Homo sapiens: one gene and its partners. The protein of the gene in region 6 interacts with the protein of the main gene of each other region in a biochemical or structural test. Each region holds a gene or a part of one and is shown on either strand. Other genes may lie near its edges.

The links.
Region 1: of the proteins of CREBBP (region 6) and ZNF106, one has a biochemical effect on the other in vitro, tested with the Homo sapiens proteins (2 studies listed by BioGRID, with this or other methods).
Region 2: the proteins of CREBBP (region 6) and FOXO4 form a complex in vitro, tested with the Homo sapiens proteins (2 studies listed by BioGRID).
Region 3: the proteins of CREBBP (region 6) and NUP98 form a complex in vitro, tested with the Homo sapiens proteins (2 studies listed by BioGRID).
Region 4: the proteins of CREBBP (region 6) and ATF1 form a complex in vitro, tested with the Homo sapiens proteins (2 studies listed by BioGRID).
Region 5: the proteins of CREBBP (region 6) and GTF2B form a complex in vitro, tested with the Homo sapiens proteins (2 studies listed by BioGRID).
Region 7: the proteins of CREBBP (region 6) and SMAD3 form a complex in vitro, tested with the Homo sapiens proteins (3 studies listed by BioGRID, with this or other methods).

The regions. Positions count from the first base shown.
Region 1 is NC_000015.10:42,484,642-42,488,141, reverse strand, and holds part of ZNF106 (zinc finger protein 106), read left to right. Parts: intron 1-3,500. UniProt on the Homo sapiens protein: RNA-binding protein. Specifically binds to 5'-GGGGCC-3' sequence repeats in RNA. Essential for maintenance of peripheral motor neuron and skeletal muscle function.
Region 2 is NC_000023.11:71,098,851-71,101,441, reverse strand, and holds part of FOXO4 (forkhead box protein O4), read right to left. Parts: intron 759-2,591; coding exon 1-758. UniProt on the Homo sapiens protein: Transcription factor involved in the regulation of the insulin signaling pathway. Binds to insulin-response elements (IREs) and can activate transcription of IGFBP1.
Region 3 is NC_000011.10:3,700,055-3,703,554, reverse strand, and holds part of NUP98 (nuclear pore complex protein Nup98-Nup96 isoform 1 precursor), read left to right. Parts: intron 1-662; coding exon 663-1,092; intron 1,093-2,715; coding exon 2,716-2,945; intron 2,946-3,500. UniProt on the Homo sapiens protein: Plays a role in the nuclear pore complex (NPC) assembly and/or maintenance. NUP98 and NUP96 are involved in the bidirectional transport across the NPC. May anchor NUP153 and TPR to the NPC.
Region 4 is NC_000012.12:50,818,882-50,821,662, reverse strand, and holds the end of ATF1 (cyclic AMP-dependent transcription factor ATF-1), read right to left. Parts: intron 2,029-2,781; coding exon 1,884-2,028; 3' UTR 501-1,883; downstream 1-500.
Region 5 is NC_000001.11:88,881,568-88,885,067, forward strand, and holds part of GTF2B (transcription initiation factor IIB), read right to left. Parts: intron 1-3,500. UniProt on the Homo sapiens protein: General transcription factor that plays a role in transcription initiation by RNA polymerase II (Pol II). Involved in the pre-initiation complex (PIC) formation and Pol II recruitment at promoter DNA.
Region 6 is NC_000016.10:3,727,634-3,730,713, forward strand, and holds part of CREBBP (CREB-binding protein), read right to left. Parts: intron 2,242-3,080; coding exon 85-2,241; 3' UTR 1-84. UniProt on the Homo sapiens protein: Acetylates histones, giving a specific tag for transcriptional activation. Mediates acetylation of histone H3 at 'Lys-18' and 'Lys-27' (H3K18ac and H3K27ac, respectively).
Region 7 is NC_000015.10:67,072,102-67,075,601, reverse strand, and holds part of SMAD3 (mothers against decapentaplegic homolog 3), read right to left. Parts: intron 1-3,500. UniProt on the Homo sapiens protein: Receptor-regulated SMAD (R-SMAD) that is an intracellular signal transducer and transcriptional modulator activated by TGF-beta (transforming growth factor) and activin type 1 receptor kinases.

The DNA of each region.
Region 1 (3,500 bases), on a different chromosome or scaffold from region 6:
AATTCACAAATTTCTGAAAAGCAAAACTTGAATTTGCTACGTGCTGAGTACATACTACATTGCATCCACATAAATGAAGTTATGTGTAGGCATTGTATTAGGTCTTACATGTAATCTAGAGATGATTTAAAGTATACGGAAGGTATGTGTAGGTTACATGCATATACTGTGCCATTTCATATAAGGGTCTTTAACATTCTCAGATTTTGGTATTGAGGGGGATCCTGGAACCAATCCCCCATGGATATCGAGGGACAACCATATATGCATAGAATATCCTCTGTGGAGGATAGTCAAAATCATAGAGACAGAAAGTAGAATGGTGGTTGCTAGGGGTTGAGGGAGGGGGAAATGAGTTATTGTTTAATGGATATAAAGTTTCAGTTATGCAAGATGCAAGTAGTTATGGAGACGGATGGTAGTGTTGGTTGTACAACATTATGAATGTATTTAATACCACTAAACTACACTTAAATGGTTAAGATGGTAAATTTTATGTTTTGTATTTTCATGCAAAAAAATTGAAAAATATCTCTGGAAAACAAATAAGAAACTCACAAGAGTGGCTGACTGGAAGTGGCGGTGGCTAGGAAACAGGAGGGGGTAGTAATAGTTTTTCCTAAAAGCTTTTTTTTTTTTTTTTTTTTTTTTGAGACAGGGTCTTGCTCAGTCACCTAGGCTGAAGTACAGTGGCATGATCATGGCTCACTACACCCTCAAACTCCTTGGCCCCAGCAATCCTCTTCCCACCTCAGCCTTCTTAGTAGCTGGGACTACAGGTGCGTGCCACCATGCCCAGCTAATTAATAAATTTTTTGTGTGTGTGAAGAGGAGGTCTCACTGTGTCACCCAGAATGGTGTTGAACTCCTGGCCTCAAGTGATTCTGTTGCCTCAGCCTCCCAAAGTGCTAGGATTATAAGTGTGCTGCCACTGCATCCAGGCCATATTTTCCCTATAAGCTTTTTTATTTTATTTTATTTTATTTTTTTAAAGATGGAGTTTCACTCTTGTTGCCCAGGCTGGAGTGCGATGGCACGATCTCTGCTCACTGCAACCTCTGCCTCCCAGGTTCAAGCGATTCTTCTGCCTCAGCCTCCCGAGTAGCTGGGATTACAGGCACCTGCCACCATGCCTGGCTAATTTTTTGTATTTTTAGTAGAGATGGGGTTTCACTATGTTGGCCAGGCTGGTCTCAAATGCCTGACCTGGTGATCCCCCCACCTCAGCCTCCCAAAGTGCTGGGATTACAGGCGTGAGCCACTGTGCCTGGCCAAAAAAATTAATTTTTTAATTGGCAATAAAATATATGTATTTATTGTGTACAATATGGTGCCTTGACATATATATATATAACAAGTCCTCACTTAACATCAATAGGATCTTGGAAACTGTGACTCTAAGCAAAACAGCATAATAACAAAACTAATTTTGCCACAGGTTAATTGATATAAAAAAGAGTTAAGTTCCTATGGCATATTTCTGGTCACAAGAACATCACCAAACTTCTAAATGAAGACCCCAAACACTTCTAATACTAAACATTGAAATAAATGTGAGCTATACGTAGATGTAAAAAAGAGTAGCTTGGGCATGGTGGCTCATACCTGTAATCCTAGCACTTTGGGAGGCCAAGGTGGAGGACACTTGAAACTGGGAGTTCAAGATCAGCCTGGGCTTCAAAGCGAGACCCTGTCTCTACAAAAAATTTTAAAAATTGACCAAGTATAGTAGCGTATACCTGTAATCCCAGCTACTTGGGAGGCTGAGGTGGAAGGATCACTTGAGCCCAGGAGTTCAAAGCTGCAGTGAGCTATGATCATGCCCCTGCACTCTACCCCAGGTGATAGAACAAACCCCTGTCTCTGGAAGAAAAAAAAAAGAAGGGCTGGGCGCGGTGGCTCACGCCTGTAGTCCCAGCACTTTGGGAGGCTGAGGTGGGCGGATCACGAGGTCAAGGGATCTAGCCATCCTGGTCAACATAGTGAAACTCTATCTCTACTAAAAAATACAAAAGTTAGCTGGGTGTGGTGGTACATGCGCCTGTAGTCCCAGCTACTCGGGAGGCTGAGGCAGGAGAATCGATTGAACCCGGGAGGTGGAGGTTGCAGTGAGCTCAGATCATGCCACCACACTCCAGCCTGGCGACAGAGCGAGACTCCGTCTCAAAAAAAAAAAAAAAAGAAAGAGTAATAAAAACAGGATATTTGCCTAATTTTTGGCAAATCAATGGGTGACCACAGTCCCACTGGTGGTGGGCTAAATCAAGGAATAAATATTTCCAAAGTGAAAATTTTAAGGAGCACTGGCTACTACCATGTGGTTAAAAATCAACAAATATGACAGGTGGGTGCTTTCGTACCACATTGTTTATTGTTGTGCATACGTCACACATTTTTATTTTATAATAATTTTTATTTATCCACTCTTTTATTTTCCAACGTCTTTATTCCAGTTCAGTGTTCAGGTGGTCAGAGCCTATCCTAAGCAGCTAAGGTTACAAGGTAGAAACCAACCCTGGACAGGACGCCATTCCATCCCAGGGTGTACTCACACACACACACCCACACTCACTGAGACTGGGACTGTTTAGACACCCTGTTCACCTATCAGGCACTTACTTCGGGGTGTGGGAGGAAACTGGAGACCTGGAAGAAACCCATGAAGGAATAAGGAGAACATACGAAGTCTTCATGGACAGTGGCCTCAGCTGGAAGTAATTTATTTTTTCTCATTAATGTTGTAACAGCATGATATTGAATGAAACAGCATTTTTTGAGGACCTGCTGTACCTTGTGGAATAGCTAGATGAAACTAATTAACATATGTATTACTTATAAGTTTTTGTGGTGAGAACACATAAACCTTGCATCACTTTCTAATGTCCCAGAAGATGTTCATGTAGGTGAAAAATCTGTTTATAATTATCTGAGCCTCAAACCAAATTTGTTTAACATAAACATACAGTATTTTTTTTGTTGTTGTTGTTTTTCTGAGGTAAGGTCTCACTCTGACCCCCCAGGCTGGAGTGCAGTGGCATGGTCTTGGCTCACTGCAACCTCTGCCTCCTGGGTTCAAGTGATTCTTGTGTCTCAGCCACCTGAGTAGCTGGGATTACAGGCATGCAAGCCCAGCTAATTTTTTTTTTGTAGAAACGGGGTTTTGCCATGTTGGCCAGACTGGTCTTGAACTCCTGGACTCTACCGATCCGCCCGCCTCCGCTTCCCAGGTGCTGGGATTACAGGCGTGAGCTACCGCGCCTGGTCAACACAGAGTATTTTTTGCCTGAAGCATAGTTAATGTGTAAATCAAGGGACTGTGCTTTCTTTAGTTCAGAAAGATTATTGAGTTGGTCACTATTTTGGGAAATTATATTGCAGACAGCAATGCTGTTTGTGTTTGTTTTGAGACAGAGTCTCACTCTGTCACCCAGGCTGGAGTACAGTGGCATGATCTTGGCTCACTGCAACCTCTGCCTCCCAGGTTCAAGCAATTCTCGTGC
Region 2 (2,591 bases), on a different chromosome or scaffold from region 6:
GAAGGAAGCCCCCCCAGCAACAGAAGAGTCGGAGCCTGGGACAGAATGGGATCTACCTGGGTCATGAGGACGTCAGCAGGGGGTGGTGGCGTATCAGAGGTGAGCAGGGCCTCCAGAGCCTGGGAGCTGGAGAAGCACCCTTCTCCTGCTGACAGGGGCCCCTCTGCTGGGCTGAAAAGGGAGCTGCTGTAGGTGTGTAAGGGGCCGGTAACCCCAGGATGCTGCAAAGAGAAGCCAGAGAGACCACTCCGAGATAGCAGGGAATGGGAAGAGGTGAGATTGAGCCCATCTAACAGCTCTAGACCTTCATTGAGGGTGGGAGGGACACCCCCTGCATAACTGCTGACTGAAGCTGGTATTTCCTCCGCCAGCACCTCAGACTCTGGCCTCAAGGGGGACAGCCGGGTGCTGACACTGCTGGCATTTGAACTGCTTCGTGGACGGAAGGTGGTCCACATATCGGCTTCTTCACGGTTTCGAGAGCAAGGGCTGCCTGACCACTTGGCAAAGTGGCCGACAGGGCTCGTTGGAGTGGCACCTTCGGGTGGAGCTGGCAGCACAGATGGTTTCTTCTTGGGGGCTTTACTGCGGCCCCGGAGCAGCTTGCTGCTGCTATCCATGGAGGCGGCCCGGCGGCGGGGGGCTTTGCCGCTCTTGCCTCCCTCAGGGTTCAGCATCCACCAAGAGCTTTTGCCGGTGGCCTCGTTGTGAACCTTGATGAACTTGCTGTGCAGGGACAGGTTGTGGCGGATCGAGTTCTGGAGGGGCAGAGATGGCAGGAAAGGGGCGTGAGGTACTGTAGGGGAGGTCAGTGGCCAGCGGTCAAGTCTAAGAGGATGCTGGACCCTGATGATCTAGGGTTTAGGATTTGGTGCCACCACCGCAGCAGGGTTCATTTCGGGGCTTCATTTCCCAGGTCATTAAAGTTTAAGAAAAACTTTAAATAATTTACAAAAAAAGAGAAAAAGATAAAAGATAAAAGGGTGCTGGAACACAGCAGGGGTATTCCTGGAGACTCAAAGAAAGTTGAATCCAGGGGGGAAAACTGGTAGAAGTAGGGGTGGGGGTGGGGTGTGAGGGGAGACCACACACATTTCCCGCTCCCAGACAAGCTGCTCAGCCTCTGCTCCAGACTTCTCTGTACAGCGGGTGGGAGATAACGTGTAATAATCCACTGCAGAGAGCACGGGGGATGCCCACCCTGGAAAAGCTCCTGGTACTCTGCTCTTCCCAGGGCTTCGTGTGTGTTTTGCGGGGGGTGGGGGGAGCGGTACCTGGGGCTGGTGGGCACTGGGGAGACGTGCTCCTTGCCCAGCAAGAACTAGGTTCAGGTGGGAAAGAGCATTGCACCCCTTTCCTTGAGTGCAGGTTTGGGTAGAGTTTACGGGACAGTGGTACAGCACCAGCCCAGGATGGACCCGCCCTGCCCAGAGCCAGTTCTCTGAATAGGCTGAAGGGCTGGAATCTCAGCACAGCAGGTGCTCCATTCCCCACAGAGCATTTGGGCCACCCAGCTCTCTATAGAATTTAAAGATTCCTTTTTCCCCCCTCCCTGAATCCCAGCCTTATTTCTTCCAATCCACAACACACATCCTCAACTACATTCAGTTCAGGTTCAGGCTTCCTGCTGTGCCTCAAATGCGTGAGGTGCAATCTTCCCCTCCCCTCTTTTCCGAGGAGGGATCTCCCCTCTCTAAGTTTTACTAGTTCCGTCAAGACCAAGCTTCAGTTCCACCTCTTTTATAAAGCGGCTGCTTGACTTTGGCAGCCAAATTTCTAGTATAGTATTTTTAAAATCTGCGCCACACAATTTCACCCAATTTATATTGTGTGGCTTATGGTTTCATGTAATTCGTCTCATCGAGTGTAAGTGCCAAGTGTAATGTCCTCCAGTCCCACATCCCCCATCAAAGCCCTCCCAGAGCACCAAGCTCACAGCACATATTCTATACCTACTCAAGCTCACAGTACATAATCAATATTTGTACCTGATTGGTGGGTTGCCCCTGGGTTGACAATGGTGAGGCTCCCCTTGAGGCTCTGCCAGCTCTTCAGTGCCTTGGGTATTGGAAGCTGTATGTTTTCCCTTCCTCCCTCACTGGTGACATTCTACTAGGGAAACGATGCTTTCCAGTGGCCCAGGGAGCTGAGATTGGCAGCTTCTTCAGCCCCCAGTGCAGCTTATATTTACTGATTGCCGCGGGGCAGGCTAGTTACACAAGGGGTTTGGCCCTCCCCTGGCCACCCCCCTTCCCGAAACCTGCCTTCTTTTCCCTACCTCCTTCCCAGTGCCTTTCCCCCATTTCTCAGGAATTTGTGCATAAACTCTTCAACCTTGGGGGCATTTGACCTCCCACTTGGAGGTCTTTAGTTTAGAAATTCAGGAGGAGCCCAGAAGTGCTTAGAGCAACTAGGAGGCTGAGTACATGGGACGGTCAGAAACTACTTGTTTCTCTGACTGGTGCTCTTAAGATAAGGAGCACCTTTGCCTGGGGAATGATGCTTCTTGTTCCAGGGTTCTTTAGCCAAAGAACTCCTTGTGTTCCTGGGACCCTGAGGTAATGGCATTTCAACTGTGCTGATGTTCCTTC
Region 3 (3,500 bases), on a different chromosome or scaffold from region 6:
TAGGAATGATAATAATGCTAATCATTTAAAAGTTTTTGAGGCCAAGTGCAGTGGCTCATGCCTGTAATTGCAGCACTCTAGGAGGCTGAGGCAGGTGGATCACGAGGTCAGGAGTTCAAGACCAGCCTGGCCAACATGGTGAAACTCTGTCTCTACTAAAAATACAGAAAAGTTAGCCAGGCATGGTGGCGGGCACCTGTAATCCCAGCTACTCGGGAGGCTGAGGCAGAGAATTGCTTGAACCCAGGAGGCAGAGGTTGCAGTGAGCCAAGATCATGCCACTGCACTCTAGCCTGGGCTACAGGGCGAGACTCTGTCTCCAAAAAAAAAAAAAAAAAGTTTTTGAAGAGTGAAATGAAATAACATATACAAATGACTTATACAGAGCCTGCTGCATATTTTTAAATAATATTAATAGTGTTGTTGCTTTTATTATTGTTGTAGATATCATCATCATCATTAGAATCTTGTCCTGATTTCCTAGTTCAAAGAGTAATTTCTGCAAAATCTGACTTAGCCTGCTTCTGGTCATCCACATCTGATATAAGTAGTTTGATTAAACATTGAATGATTTCAGCCTTACTGATTTTTGTTATTGTTCAAGAAACAATAGCTTGTGTTTTGTAATAGTCTTTCTCCCCTTCATTCCCGCTTCATTTCAGTTGGTGGGTTACTACAATCAAAATTTACAAGTGGAGCTTTTCTTTCACCAAGTGTCTCTGTGCAAGAATGTCGTACTCCCAGAGCAGCATCTTTAATGAATATCCCATCCACATCCTCTTGGTCTGTCCCTCCACCCCTGACTTCTGTGTTCACAATGCCCAGCCCAGCCCCTGAGGTTCCGTTGAAAACAGTGGGTACACGTAGGCAACTAGGCCTAGTCCCTCGTGAAAAGTCTGTCACCTATGGCAAGGGAAAACTCTTGATGGACATGGCCCTATTCATGGGACGCTCATTTCGTGTTGGTTGGGGCCCCAACTGGACTCTTGCTAATAGTGGAGAACAGCTGAATGGCTCTCATGAACTAGAAAATCATCAGATTGCCGATTCCATGGAGTTTGGATTCCTGCCCAATCCAGTAGCTGTTAAACCGTGAGTCACATTTCTTGATGCTTTTTGAGAAAGGCAACATGATAGGTGAAAAAAACTAATCAGGAGGATAGGGCCCTGCTTTGTCATCTTTCTAGAGAGAGAGAGAGAGAGAGAGAGAGAGAGAGAGAGAGAGAGAGAGAGAGAGAGAGTGTGTGTGTGTGTGTGTGTGTGTGTGTGTGTGTCTCAGTTTTGCTCTGTTTCCCCGGTGTGTGTGTGTGTGTTTTTGAGTCTCAGTTTTGCTCTGTTTCCCAGGCTGGGGTGCGGTGGCACGATCTCAGCTTGCTGCAACCTCTGCCTCTCAGTCTGAGGCTCTTCTCCTGCCTCAGCCTCCTGATAAGCTGGGATTACATGCACACGCCACCACACCCAGCTAATGTTTCCTGAGCTCAAGTGATTGTCCTACCTTGGCCTCCCAAAGTGCTGGGATTACAGTCATGAGCCACCTTGCCCAGCCTATCCTTCATTTTTAAAGTTGACTTTGAAAAAATAAAAAACAACCTGTAATCCCAGCACTTTGGGAGGCCAAGATGGGCGGATCACGAGGTCAGGAGATTGAGACCATCCTGGCTAACACGGTGAAACTCTGTCTCTACTAAAAATACAAAAAAAATTAGCTGGGCGTTGTGGCAGGCGCCTGTAGACCCAGCTAGTCAGGAGGCTGAGGCAGGAGAATGGTGTGAACCCGGGAGGCGGAGCTTGCAGTGAGCTGAGATCGCGCCATTGCACTCTAGCCTGGGCAACTGAATGAGACTCAGTCTCAAAAAAAAAAAAGAGAGAAAAGAAAAAGAAAAAACAACAATGTCTCTTGAACCTCACAATTAAGAATACTGATCCTAAACTTAGTTATTCTAGGTTAAGCATTATCTTGTGAATTTTGAAGGTTATTAATATCAATCTTAAAAATTAGATCAAGGGGCCGGGTACGGTGGCTCACACCTGTCATCCCAGCACTTTGGGAGGATCACTTGAGGTCAGGAGTTCGAGACCAGCCTGGCCAACATGGTAAAACCCTGTCTCTACTAAAATTACAAAAATTAGCCCAGGGTGGTGGTGCATGTTTGTAATCCCAGCTACTCAGGAGACTGAGGCAGGAGAATCGCCCTTGAACCCAGGAGGCAGAGGTTGCAGTAAGCCAAGATCACGCTACTGCATTCCAACCTCAGCGACAGTGTGAAACTCCATCTCAAAAAAAAAAAAAAAAAAAAAATTGGAACAAGCCTAGCTTAGCTATATGCTCATTGTAATTTAGAATCAGTTCTTTAGTATCTAGAAGCTTAGCCTCATGACTTTTGATACCCAAGTATAATTTGAGAAACAGGTATCCCACAATAGCTTTTGGCCCTTGAGTTTTAGCCAGTTCTAAATCTGTTAGGATTCTCATGCTTGTTATAACCTGGCCTAAGAAGCCTTTGTGTTCTGAATGCACTGATCAGATGATTTTTTTTCCCCAGTATATAGCAGATAAGTTCAGTATAGTTTAAGAAACAAAATTTCTTTAAAACTACAGTGAAATGTTTGCATTCCGTTTGTAATCATAAAAAGAAACAGTGGTTTGGTTGAAGTAAAAATCCTAGCTTCTGTCTTAGGTTCATTTTCTATTCTATTCCTCATTTGCTCTTGTAGCCTAACTGAGTCCCCATTCAAAGTTCACTTAGAAAAACTCAGTTTGAGACAAAGAAAGCCAGATGAAGACATGAAATTATATCAGACACCTCTGGAGCTCAAATTAAAACACAGCACTGTCCATGTGGATGAACTGTGTCCTCTCATTGTCCCCAATCTGGGAGTTGCTGTCATTCATGACTATGCAGATTGGGTTAAAGAAGCATCAGGAGACTTACCAGAAGCACAAAGTGAGTACACACTATGTTTCTAATGTTTGATGTCCCAATAATAGTGGTGGTAGCGTATGTTCACGGGAGGATGAATTTCCTGGCACCAGTCTAGTAGGTAAATGCCTGTGCTTGTCATTTTCTGAGGTTGAGTTTAACTAAGCAGATTCCCAAGCAAGAAGAAATTGTCACTATGTTCTTGTCACTTTGTTCTTTTACCCATTAATGTACAAATTCTTCCACAAAGAACTGTAGCAAGTCAAATCCTTGGATTTATAAAATTGAATTTCTTACCTAATCCAGAGAACATAGGGAGAGAAATACATTCCTTCTTGCTTTACTTTTTTTTTTTTTTTTTTTTTGAGACGGAGTCTCACTCTGTCACTGTAGCTGGGAGTATAGGCGCGCGCCACCACACCCAGCTAATTTTTGTATTCTTAGTAGAGACAGGGTTTCACCATATTGGCCAGGATTGTCTCGATCTCTTGACCTCGTGATCTGCCTGCCTCGACTTTCCAAAGTGCTGGGATTACAGGCGTGAGCCATCGAGCCCGGCCCCTTCTTGCTTTTCTAAAT
Region 4 (2,781 bases), on a different chromosome or scaffold from region 6:
ATTTATGGAACCATTAATGGTTTGCCCTGACCTGTTTCATACAGCTAGAGTAAGTAACTGGGTCTAGTTAGCAAGGCCCTACACCAGAAGTCTGAAGGCAGCAGAGTTTACAAATATTTGCAGATGTCCAGCTGTTAAGGCACTAAGAGCTAGGCTACCTCTGTTGTAAACAAGCACGGTGTCTACCCAATAATATATTATCATCTGTTGAAAAAGTCTTTTGACATAACCCAGTGACCTCATACCTCCTCATATTCTTAGGCCTAACGGGCCACCAGTTTGAGATTCTGGCTTTACACAAGGTAGTAAGTGATATAAGTAATCCCCCTGGCGATCAAACTTTTTTTTCTTTTCATAAAGTGCTGCCAAGTCAACAGAGTCCCATTTTAAAAGACCCTTCTAATGAGAAATTTCATCAGGAGGGTCAAACACAAATGTATCAGTTAAGTGAAGATTTCTACGTAGCATTAGGATAATTAACAGCATGGCCAGGAGCAAGCTTATCATTCATATACCAAGCATTATATTTTACATTCAGTAGACTATCAAATGTCCTTTAATTTCACAGACAACAATATGATGCATACTGTGTAAGAGCACACAATAGTTTTGCAGTACAATTTTAAACTGTATACAAATTGGAATATAGATGTTAAACGCTGGTGTACTGACAGTATTTTTGAATTTTAGATAAACTGCATACAAAATTTACAATGCAAATATTAGCCAATCTGAAAACGTCCCATAATATAAAAATGATACTTTGAGATGCAAATTTTACTAAACTATATAAACATTTAAAATAATCATTAAAAACTCAACATTAGAATTTATAAAGATCAGCTATAAAAATATATTGGCAGTCACTTTTCTTATAAAGGTACCACTCACTACATTACAAAATAGTCTCTAACATAAAATTGCCTTAATAACTATACTATTATAGAATCTGATAAACCTTACATTATTAAATTGATTATAAAATCTTCTTGGAAAAACTTTGGTATGTATCTTCAGAAGGTTTTTTAAAAATAATATTTTAAGGGCCTGTAAACATTCCATTCTATTAAAGCACAGCAGAATAAGTAATGGATATTCAACTGCATACAGAATATAGACTCAAAAAAACAATTTATTATGTATTTGTAGAAAATCATTACCAGAGTAAGCAAAAAAACCAACTATTTAAAAGTATCAAACTTTTAAACAGTTCTTTTTCCATTCTGATAAAAAATGTTATAAAATCACCATACTCCATTCATGTACCTTAGATGCCTTTTAGGATAAGACCTCAAAAATAATTAACCTAGTCTCAAAAATCCATTCAAGTCCAATAACAAACTTTTAAAAACCCACTTAAAAAGACTTGACACTAGAACAAGTATACATAATCAGAACATATACTTTATATATTTAGTAATGTACTAGGTTTTCTCTTACCTTTGTAATTTAGAATTTATTGGCAGAAATTACACACACACACACACATATATATAACTAAAAAAAGGTAAATTTCAGCAAACAAATGCAAACCTGTAGGGTAAATGGATTTTTAAAAAAAATTCAGTTTATCAAATTTCATCTTCTCTGCCATTTTAGATTGGCAACTATTGGTTATTTAGAAAATTTAGACTGCTGAAAGTTCATTTCTTGCTCCTTGAATATGTTTAATTTCTACAAAGCTTCCAGTTGTGCCCGTAGCTTCCTTGAGGTCATTTTCCACTTTCTCCTCTGTCACTAGATATCGTGCGTAAGATATTTATCCTTGATTTGGAAAAGCCTAAATAAAAAGCTTCAGTTTTGACCTTTTAATTTATAAAACTCCACTAGGAAATCCATTTAATTTTTATGCATGTCCACAAAAATATTTTCTTTCTTAGGAATCAAACACTTTTATTGGAATAAAGATCCTTCAAAGTTTTTAACTCTTCTATTAGAGTTTTATTTTGATTTTCCAGGACTGCAACTCGGTTTTCCAGGCATTTCACATATTCTTTCTTCTTTCTGCGACATTCTCGAGCAGCTTCTCTAAATATGAGCATTAAAAAAACAATGTTAGAAAAAACTTCACATTCTTTAAATGGTAAATGTTCTTCAGTAATTTTCCGTGGTCACCTTTTTTTCTCTTTAAAGTATCATCTACACACAGAGAATACATAGATCTTAAGTGTAGAATTCAGTCAGTTTTGGCAATTGTGTATACCTGTATAACCCACACCTCTGTCAAGACAACAGAACATTCCCACTGTCCCAGAAAGTTCCCTCATGCCCCTTCCTGGTCAGCCCCCTTCCAAGCAACTATCGTTTTGATTTTTATCACCAGAGATTAGTTTTTTTCCTATTCTAGAACCTCATGTAAGAGTGTCATACACTATGTACTCTGGTGTCCCTTCACTCAGCCCATCTGAGGTTCATCCATGTTGCTGCATGGGGGTTTGTTCCTTCACACTGCTGGACATAGTTCACTGTATGAATATAACCACCATTTGTGTATCCAGTCTCTTGCGATGTTTCTAGGGTTAGCTGCATAGGCATGTTTTTGTGCCAGTCTTTTTGTAGAAAGGTTTCATTTCTCTTGAATAAATACCAAAGAGTGAAATTATGGGTCCTCTGGTTAACTTCTGACACATGACTTCTTTTATTTAAGTTCAAATTACAAACAATGCTTGAGCAAATACTCAGTTCTGTGCATGTCCTCTTAAAACATTTCTGTGAAGTCATATGTAAGTTTATATACATATAGAAATCGGAAGTATTGGCCAGGCATGGTGGCTCATGCCT
Region 5 (3,500 bases), on a different chromosome or scaffold from region 6:
TCTTCTACACCTGCCCTTGTTTGGTAATGGAATGGATTCTTCGCTTACAAGATATATTACACATTTAACCACAAATATCTATGAATGAGCCTACCGTATATTTTAAAATAAGTGTTGGTTATATTTTATGTTAGAAGAATCAGTATCAAAAAGAAATACTGTCATATATTATAGAAAGTAAGTTTTATTGGATATGTTTTTCAGATCTCAAGATTTAACATGGTGTTTGATACTAGTAAGTCAATAAAAGCAAAAACAAAATTAACTTCCTTTGGTTTGATATAGCAGAAAAGTACAAGCAAAAATTAGGAATTCCAAGCACAAGAAAGCATACAAGTCTTGTGAATTGTATCTTCCTTTTTCAGTTGATTAATCTCCACTGTCTTGCTGGTTAAAGTGGAAGTGAGGCTGGTGGGAAGGCTGAAAATATAATGGGATACTTTTACATTATTTAAAAATGGGCCAGGTGCCATAGCTCACGCCTGTAAACTCAGAACGCTGGGAGGTCGAGGCAGGTGGAACACTTGAGGCCAGGAGTTTAAAACTAGCCTGGACAACGTGGTGAAACCCTGTCTCTACTAAAAATACAAAAATTAGGTGGGTGTGGTGGTGCATGCCTGTAATCCCAGGTACTCAGTAGGCTGAAGTACAAGAATCGCTTGAACCCCGGAGGCAGAGGCTGCAGTGAGCGGAGATCGTGCCACTGCACTCCAGCCTGGGGGACAGAGGGAGACTCTCACTCCAAAAAAAAAAAAAAAAAAAAAAAAAAACGCTACAGAGGTTAGGAGAGCTAAGAAGCTGAAATTATCTTCAATCTCATGTATGTCTGTCTCACTCGTACACATTATCAGTTTGATCTTAACACTGTGGAAGAACTGGAAGGCTCTCATTTAACTGAAGGGTTAAGCAAACATTTTCTGTAAAGGGTGACATAGTAAGTATTTTAGGTTTTGTGGGTCAAGAGGCAAAATTCAGGATATTAAGTAGGTACTTACATGTCTACTAATGAGGAAAATAAAATTCTCTTTTGGGGATCACATTTCACTTAATTGGAGTTCAAAGTTAATGTTCTCTATCAAAATCAATGACAAATGTTCATGTGTCAATGATGTTGTGTTAACAAGATTTTATGTATTTCACTTTCTTTTCGCATAGACAAGTAATGCCAAATACCGATATTAATCCACAAGTGTATGATTTTAATTGAGCATATTTATTGCTTGGAAGGCATTCATAGAATTGTATTACATTCTTCTCCTGATAATGGCCTTTTAACATACTGTTACACTGCAGATTAGTCACTACCAACTGAAGGTTAGATGGAACCCCCTTAACTGTACAGTGAAAACAAATTTTGAAATATGAAAATTTCCTTTGCATTTGCATTCAAGTCTGAAAAACACTGCTGAAAATATAGCTTGAGCCTGGAAAATATATCTGCTGCAAATCTATGTGGTAATGAACATCCTATTTTAACTTCTGACACCACTGGAAGTATATAAAGTATATAAAAGCAATTTGACATTACTTATGATTCAAATGTTAACTTGTGAAATTGACTTTACTGCACTTTATGTTTCACAGAAAAGCAGTATTTTGCCTTGTAACTCTATGATGAATTCATTAAGACATATTAGCAAGTTTGCAGCAAAAGCTAATTTTCAAAACCATCCAGTGTTCAACAGCAGTAGCCGAAGGCAGTACTGATTCAGAAAAATCTTACTCTTGGCCCCGAGTTCAGAAAAATCACAACAAAACTTTGCTACTGCTAAGTCACCAGATTAGTGTGTCATTAAGACAAGTCACCCTAACAGTATTTTGTTAGAAATATTCAGCTTCTATTTCTAACAAAATGTCACAAAACTGGCTGAGCATGATAGCTCACACCTATAATCCCAGCACTTTGGGAGATCAAGGCAAAAAGATCACTTGAGGCCAGGGTTCAAGACTAGTCTGGGCAACGCTGTGAGACCCTATCTGTACCAAAAAAAAAAAATTAGCCAGGGTCCTGCTTGAGCCCAGGAGTTGAGGCTGAAGTGAGTCATGATCGCACCACTGCACTCCAGCCTGAGAAACAGAGTGAGACTCTGTCTCAAAAAAAAAGTCACAGAACTGATATTGATAGTTACGTGCACAAGAGTGAATGAAGTTCATTGTTCACAATTACTGGTTAAATAACACAAGGTAGATTAAAGTCTTCTCTAACAAAGTACTGCTGATGAATAATGTAATAGGCTTTTTAAACACCTTACGTTTTCAATCTTGGCAAATCTGTTCCACTAAGTCTTCTGCTCCACATATTTTTACCCTTATCAGTTATAATAAATCTTAGCAGATTCCACCTCAGGTTATACTGAATTAACACTTTTGCAACTGCTTTGAAGCTATTTTCTCCTATAGCTGTTCCATGTAGACTACTCACTGGAGCTAGTTCTTCTGTCAAGCTCAGCACTGACTTTTTTTTTTTTTTTTTTTTTTGAGACAGAGTCTCACTCTGTCACTTAGGCTGGAGTGCAGTGGTGCAATCTCGGCTCACTGCAAACTCCGCCTCCCAGGTTCAAACAATTCTCTGCCTCAGCCTCCCGAGTAAGCTGGGATTACAGATGCCCACCACCACGCCCGGCTAATTTTTGTATTTTTAGTAGAGATGGAGTTTCACCATCTTGGCCAGGCTGGTTTTGAACTCCTGAACTCATGATCCATCCGCCTCAGCCTCCGAAAGTGCTGGGATTACAGGCGTAAGCCGCTGCACCTCGCCCAACACTGACTTCTTGAATAAACAACTGCAAAGCAGCAATAACATTGATCTAGTCATCAAGAGCCAAGGAAAAATATACCTGAGCTAATTTGCCTTAACTTTTAATTGACTACTGATGTTGCTCCACTGTCCTCAACTCTTCAAGCAACTGTTCTTGGTGAGATGCTAACAGTCTTAAATAAATTTATTTTCTCTGCATACATTTCTTCAGCTGTTGCAATCAAATATGAATTAACCTATCATTGGTAAATGGCTTTCCTTGCTTGGCCAAGAAATAAGCCACTTAGAAACTTTAGTTGCAGCCTCAGTTTCATTCTTTTATTTTTGTGAAAAAATTCTGTTGTGTTAAGATATTCTATTTTACATTATTTTCTGACCATTGTTTTCCTGAGTTAGAAATATTCTGATGAGTGCTCAGTATGGTAATGTCCACGCTTACTGTATTCTTTTAACACAGCTACAGTATCATTGTGTAATAAACACAATGTTTTGCCATCTAATTCAGTGACAAAATAATCCATACTCCACCATGCCTTAAAAGCATGACATTCAAAGTTAACTTTTCTTGTTTTGGTGTGATGGATATGTAATGGTAATAAAAACAAATAAATAAAATAGTGCAGTATGGCAACATATGTGGCGATCAACATGTTGCTGTTATAACTGCATCACTGCAATTAGTATGCTGAGCAGCAGAAAAAAAGTGATGAGAGCTGCACATGTGGTTTCTGTTGAAGCTACT
Region 6 (3,080 bases):
AGGAATAAAAAGAACCTAGATGCCTGGATTTTCAGTACAAAAGGTCCAAGAACATGAAAGGGAAAAGGTGATGCTCTCACAATGCTACAAGCCCTCCACAAACTTCTCTAGCGTGTCCCCCGTGGTGTCCCCGACCAGGGACAGTTCGCTGGACAGCGCACTCCTGCTGGGGGTGTTCAGCTGGGGGAGCATTGCACTCTGTTCGGGGTTCCCCAAGTGTCCCTGATCTATGGAGCTGGCCATGGTGACTGCGAGTCCGGGGTGGGGGGAACCAGTCTGGGGTGAGACGTGGTGTGGCGAAGGCTGGGGCTGTATCCGTGGTGACGGGCTGGAATGTGGAGGCTGGGACTGGGGCCGTGGAGACTGGACAGGGGCTGGAGACCGCACCTGGTTACTAAGGGACGTGGCGATCTGCTGGCCAGGGAGATGCGAGGCCTGTGGCTGTCCTGAGAGCATGTGTTGCTGGGGGCTCATGGGGTTCGGCTGGCCTGGGGACCCAATCTGCTGCTTCATCTGCTGTTGCTGCAGAATCCGCTGCTGCAGGGCTTGCTGGATGTTGGGGGTGCTGTCTGCCCCCAGCCCCGGCTGCCCCATCTGGCCAAGCTGTCCCATCTGAGCCGCCATCTGGCCCATGGAGCTGCCCTGGAGGGGGAGATGCTGCTGCATGCGCTGCTGCTGCTGCATGGCCGGTGGGTAGCCTCCGGGTCCTTGAGGCTGCTGGAACTGGCCGTGCCCCGCCATGCCCCCAGCCATGCCGGCACTCCCTTGCTGCTGCTGCTGTTGCTGCTGTTGTTGCTGCTGCTGTTGCTGCTGCTGCTGCAGCAGCTGCCTCCGTAACATTTCTCGGTACTGTGGATTCATACTCGCCATGTTGGGGTTGTGTCCTGGGTTCATGATGTTCAAGGCCTGGCCCTGGGGGTTCAGGCCTCCCATCGCCTGCTGCTGTGGAGGCACACCGGGCCGCGGCACGCCAGCCTGCATGGCATTCAGGTTCTGCAGGCTGGGCTGCTGGTGCATGCCAGGCTGGGGTTGCATGCCGGGCTGGGACTGGAGGCCAGGCTGGGGCTGCATGCCGGGCTGATTGGCCACGTACTTGGCTGTGCGCTGTTTGATGAAAGCTGCCATTAGCTGCGGGTTTGATTTGAGAATGTTCAGCACCTGCTGTTGCTGCTGAGGGGAGCTGGGCGACTTCAGGGTCCGCAGCAGGTCTTGCAGAGCGCTGGGTGAGATGCTCCTGGGTGGCTGCACGCTGGGCATCCGGGGCCCAGCCACGGCCGCCTGGGCCTGCATGGATATCACAGGCCTGGGCAAGCCTGGCATGGGCTGCTGCTGGGGAAGGGGCGCCTGCTGCCACTGCCCGGGAGGCATGCTGGGCATGACGGGCCCGCTCACCTGGTTGGGTCGGGGCACATTCAGGCTCACGGGGGCCATCTGGCTCCCCGGGGTCCCCATGCCCGTGCGTCCTGGGGGCATGCTGTTGTTGATGTTCACCCGGTACAGGTGCTGCTGCTGCTGGGCCTCACGCTCGATCTGCCGAGCCGCTTCCACCGCTGCAGGAGGGGGCTGGGCCGGGGGTGGGGGGGCCGGCACCTGGCTGGTAGGCTTCCCTGTGGACACCGTGGTGGGGGGCTGAGTCCGGGCCACGCTGGGGAAGCCAGCTGGTGACATGCTCACGGGTGAGGGTTGGGGCTGGGCAGGGGGCTGCGGCGTCTGGGGTGTGCTGGGCTGCTGTGTGGGGGTCCCGGGCGGTGCTGAGGTAGGAGAAGGCAGACTCTGCTGAGGCACGTTGCGGGTGTTCATGGTGGCCATCCGCCGGCGCATGAGCTGGGCCTGCTGCAGGCGGTGCTGGATCTGCTGCTGGCGGAGCTTGTGTTTGATGTTGAGGCAGAAGGGCACGGGGCATTTGTTTTCTTGGCAGTGCTTGGCGTGGTAGCAGCAGAGGGCGATGAGCTGCTTGCACACCGGGCAGCCCCCGTTGGTCTTGCGTTTGCAGCCCTTGGTGTGCTGCACCACCCGCTTCATCTTCTGGCAGGATGGCAGCGAGCAGTTGGCGTTGCGGCACTGGCACGCGTGCACCAGCGACTGGATGCAGCGCTGGATGCTCAGCCGGCGTGACTCCTGGGGGCTCTTTGACTGTGGCTCGCCCTGGCTGCTGCCCTCGTCATCCAGGCCCAGCCCCCACTTCACCATCTTATGGGCATGGCTCTTCGTGTTATAGCAGTTGATGCAGAGGTCGTAGTCCTGCAAGCAAGGAAAGGGGACAGGCCGGTGTCAGCATGGGACCCAGTACCACCAGGCATCCTGGCTGCTTCCCTCCACCGCTAAGTCTGGGTCTGTGCCAGGAGACCCAGGCAGGATAGGAGACCCAGACAGGATGCGAGCACGGACAGGTGGGAGACCCGGACAGGGCGGGAGCACGGACAAGATGGGATCATGGACGGGATGGGATCATGGACAACATGGGATCATGGACAGGACGGGGGCATGGACTGCCTATGTGTTGCTCCCAAGGACCTTCACTCCTGGCAACAGCCCTGAAGGCTCAAAGATAACCTGACCCATGCCCCAAGAACCCCTGGCCTGTAAGCTCACGGACAGTAGACACCAGCCCCCTTCCTTCCGACTTCCTCTGACCTGGGAGTCACATCAGCCCTTGCCACAGCCTGTCCAACTCCTGTACTCAAACTATGAAGCCAGACAGTGAAAGGCTGAGGGAGGCCGGTCCCTCCCAAAGCGCCGACAGCTGCCGTGAAGTGCCTCTGGGAAGGCCTGAGCTATCCGCAGTGCACCAGTGGGACTTCCCCAACGCGCAAGCCCAAGTTACTGAAAACTGCTCGCACCTGGCAACCTGATGGAGCCCTAGGACCAGGTACCATGACTGTGTTCACAAAAAGATATGAAAACTGCCGCATTCAGAAACTAGAAAGAGGACAAAGGAGACTGGAGAAAGGTGGAAAGCGGAAGAAGTGTGTGAAGGTGGGGAGGGAAGAAAGGCCCTCGCTCTGCTGAGGACCCGCTCTGCCCCGCTACAGACACCACAGCAAGTGAGGAGGCTCCGGGTTGGCAGGTGATGGTGACTG
Region 7 (3,500 bases), on a different chromosome or scaffold from region 6:
TCATCCTCATTTTACAGATGCAGAAACTGGGGCTCAATAAGTTGAAGCAAAGTACCCAAGGTCACCACATAGCTAATAACTGTCAGACTCAAACCCAAACCCATCAGACTTGAGAGGCTTTGCTCTTTCTGCCCAACTGTGCTCTTCCTGTCCTCCCCCTCTCCTGCTCCCCAGGTAATATGTGAAGAACCTGTCTGGGTAGAGACAAACAGCCACACACAAAATGTAAAGGGTTGGCACAACAAGCAGTAATTCACTCTGCCTTCCCATGGGCTGGGAGAAATTAGACCCACCTTGAGTCTGACTTCAATAAGGGTAAGAAAAAGTTTACAACCAGGAAGATTTGAAGCAAAAGGAAAAACCCAATTTCCATCACCAGTGCCTGCTTTCAGCCACTTGTAACTACTCAAAAAGTCCTTTCTGGATTCATTACTCCACATTTGGGCTTAGCCCAGAGGTGATTTTTTAAGGAAAAAATGCCTTTTGGCATTTTTGAGCAGTGACAGCGTAAAAACAGACCTTTAAAAAACACACACCCAAAAAGCATTACTATTTTCAAATGTCCAGTTGAAAAGAAAAAAAAAATGGTGACACCTCAGAGTTACAACTTGGCTTGGCAGTTTGTGATGCAACACTTAGCAGCAAAAGGGACCAGATTCATAACTCTGTAGGTTTCAAAGGCAAAGCCATACACAGTGTTTCTTAATACTGGAGTCCTACCCCATCTCTACTAAAAATACAAAAATTAGCTGGGCATGGTGGCGGGCGCCTGTAGTCCCAGCTACATGGGAGGCTGAGGCAGGAGAACTGCTTGAACCTGGGAGGCGGAGGTTGCAGTGAGCTGAGATCACGCCACTGCACTCCAGCCTGGGCGACACAGCAAGACTCCGTCTCAAAAAACAAAAAAAGAGAGAGACAGAGATAAAGAAACAAACAAACAATACAATACAATACTGGAGTCCTAAACTACCGGCAAAGCACTCAAGAGAAAAACTTGCCAGATGTAAGCTGGGAGAGCCATGTGATACTGAAAAAGAACTATTTAGGAGGAAACTCACTTTTCATTTCCTAGTTGGGGTTTAAACTTGCAACATCCACGCTGCCTAACAAAAGGCTCATGCTTACGCAATCAAGTGCAGCCTTTCTTTATATAGATGCTTGGAAATAAATAAAGGAAGCTTCCTGGGTAAACTTTGACATATGAGCAAACATTTTCCACAGGTATCCTCTATAATGCCTACCTCTTACATTTAACCATTTTTAGGCATCTGTGGTCATTAGTTTAAGTAAACTTCCTGTTCTTAGAATAGTCAAAAATAGCAACAAAAGAAGAAAAACTGTTCACTGCATCTCAAGAGGCACAGCCTCCACATCTTCATCCTAGCATTATTTTCATATTCCTTTGTAGTTAAATTTCACTGATTTAGACTCACAGAGTAAGGAAGAGGCAAGGAAGAGGGAGGGAAATCACCAAAATTAAAGGCTGAATTACAATTTTATTATTTTTACTTATGTAAATTAATTGACACCAGGCTGATAGAGTCTTGGAACATCAATAATTAAGAAAGATCTGTCATTCACTGATCAACTAGATGCGTGCAACTGGGAGCTTTTAAAATGTTTGTATGTGGCCGGGCGCGGTGGCTCAGGCCTGGAATCCCAGCACTTTGGGAGGCCGAGGCGGGCAGATCACTTGAGGCCAGGAGTTGGAGACCAGCCTGGCCAACATGGCGAAACTGGTCTCTGATAAAAATACAAAATTAGCCGGGTGTGGTGGCACATGCCTGTAATCCCAGCTACTCAGAAGGCTGAGGCAGGACAATCACTTGAACCTGGGAAGCGGAGGTTGCAGTGAGGCAAGACCGCGCCATTGCACTTTAGCCTGGGCAACAAGAGCGAAACTCCATCTCAAAAAATAAAATAAAATAAAATAAAATGCTTGTATGAATACCAATTCCAAGTTAGAAAGGCCCTCCAATAGAGTTTATCTAGCCTATTTTCCAGTTGAGAACATTCGAGGCCCAAAGAAGGTGACTTGTCCCAGGTCACACAGCTAATCAGAAACAGAGCCACGTCTAGAACCTACCAAGGTCTGCTGACTCCTACCTCCAAAATAATCCCCAAACTCTTGTTTATTAATTTTTCTTTGACAGCATTTATGGGGCAAAAAGGCCTGCTAAACAAACTTTTGCCTAGTCCAGAATTAGCCAAACTTCTTAATTAATAGGCTTCTACTGTGTTTTCATTTTAAACTGAGTCTCTGCCAAAACATTCTACAGCAGTTGCCACTGTGGCAGGCTGCTGTTTATAGGAAGGGTCTTAGATAACCAACAGTGGATAGTATGCTATAGATTTGTTTATTTCTCAAACTGTTAAGTCGAAACAAAGGATTATGTTATACAGAGAGAAAGAGAAAGAGAGAGAGAGATCCTTGTCAAGTCAATAAACTGCAGAGCTTGGGGGATGTGGTTTGGCACCAAAAAAACAGTATTTACAAATTAGCTAAAGAGTGAACACATACAGCATTCTTACAACTCCAAAGAACCTGTGTTTCACAGCCAGTGGACTAGAAGCTACAGAAGGCACCAGGGACAGTATCTGCCTTATTCACTATTTTGTCCGCATTATCTGGCACAGAAATTAGCACCTGGTACGGCATTAAAGGAAGGCATAAAAATGAACTGGACAAGTTCTCTTGGAATTGTCTCGGTTCTAAAGCTTAGAACACAGTAAAATTAGAAACCAAACTTCTGTAGGGTGGGCTTAGGATGGCAACTTCCCACTGTTTCCAGGAACCATTGTGCTTGAAGATGGGAAGACTGAAGGCTCCATGGCTCAGGGACTTGTCAGAGGCCAACAGAAGGTCATACCCCTCCTTAGGGAGGAGTTAGTCCCATCCAACACTGCACCAGCCATTCACGTCTGCACATGGCTGGTGAACTTCCACCCCCTGCACATTCAGCAGGCTGCCATCATGAGCAGCCTTCTTGGGCAGTTCTCTTGCCAGCCAACCAACACTATGAGATGGGGATTTGGGGGAGGGAATGGAGTCTTTAAGTTTTGCTTTTGTTTTAATCAGTCAATATGGCAAAGGAGAAAAGGGCAAAAGTCAATTAGGACTATTGATGAGACTTGCTGATTAAGAAAACTGCATTCCAATCTTAGAGAACTTAATTGCAATTACAGGAAGCTGAAGGAGAGGTGAATAAAGGTGGGAGAATAAGGTTAACAGGAATGAAAGCTGATTCCAATTTGAAGCAAGCCCTGCTTGGTCTTATTTATTTCATTAAGGAGCTCACGCAGAATAATGGCTGTACTGTGCATCAAATGGCATTAAAATCTCCTAATAAATTAACAAGTAAAAATTAATGGTCGCTCAGTTCATTAAATCGTGTTAATTTTATTCCATTATAATAATACAGCAATCACATGTTTACATTATTAAACCAATATTTATTTTTTAACTCATTTAGTTGGATTCCTGATGTGATAAGCTTGAA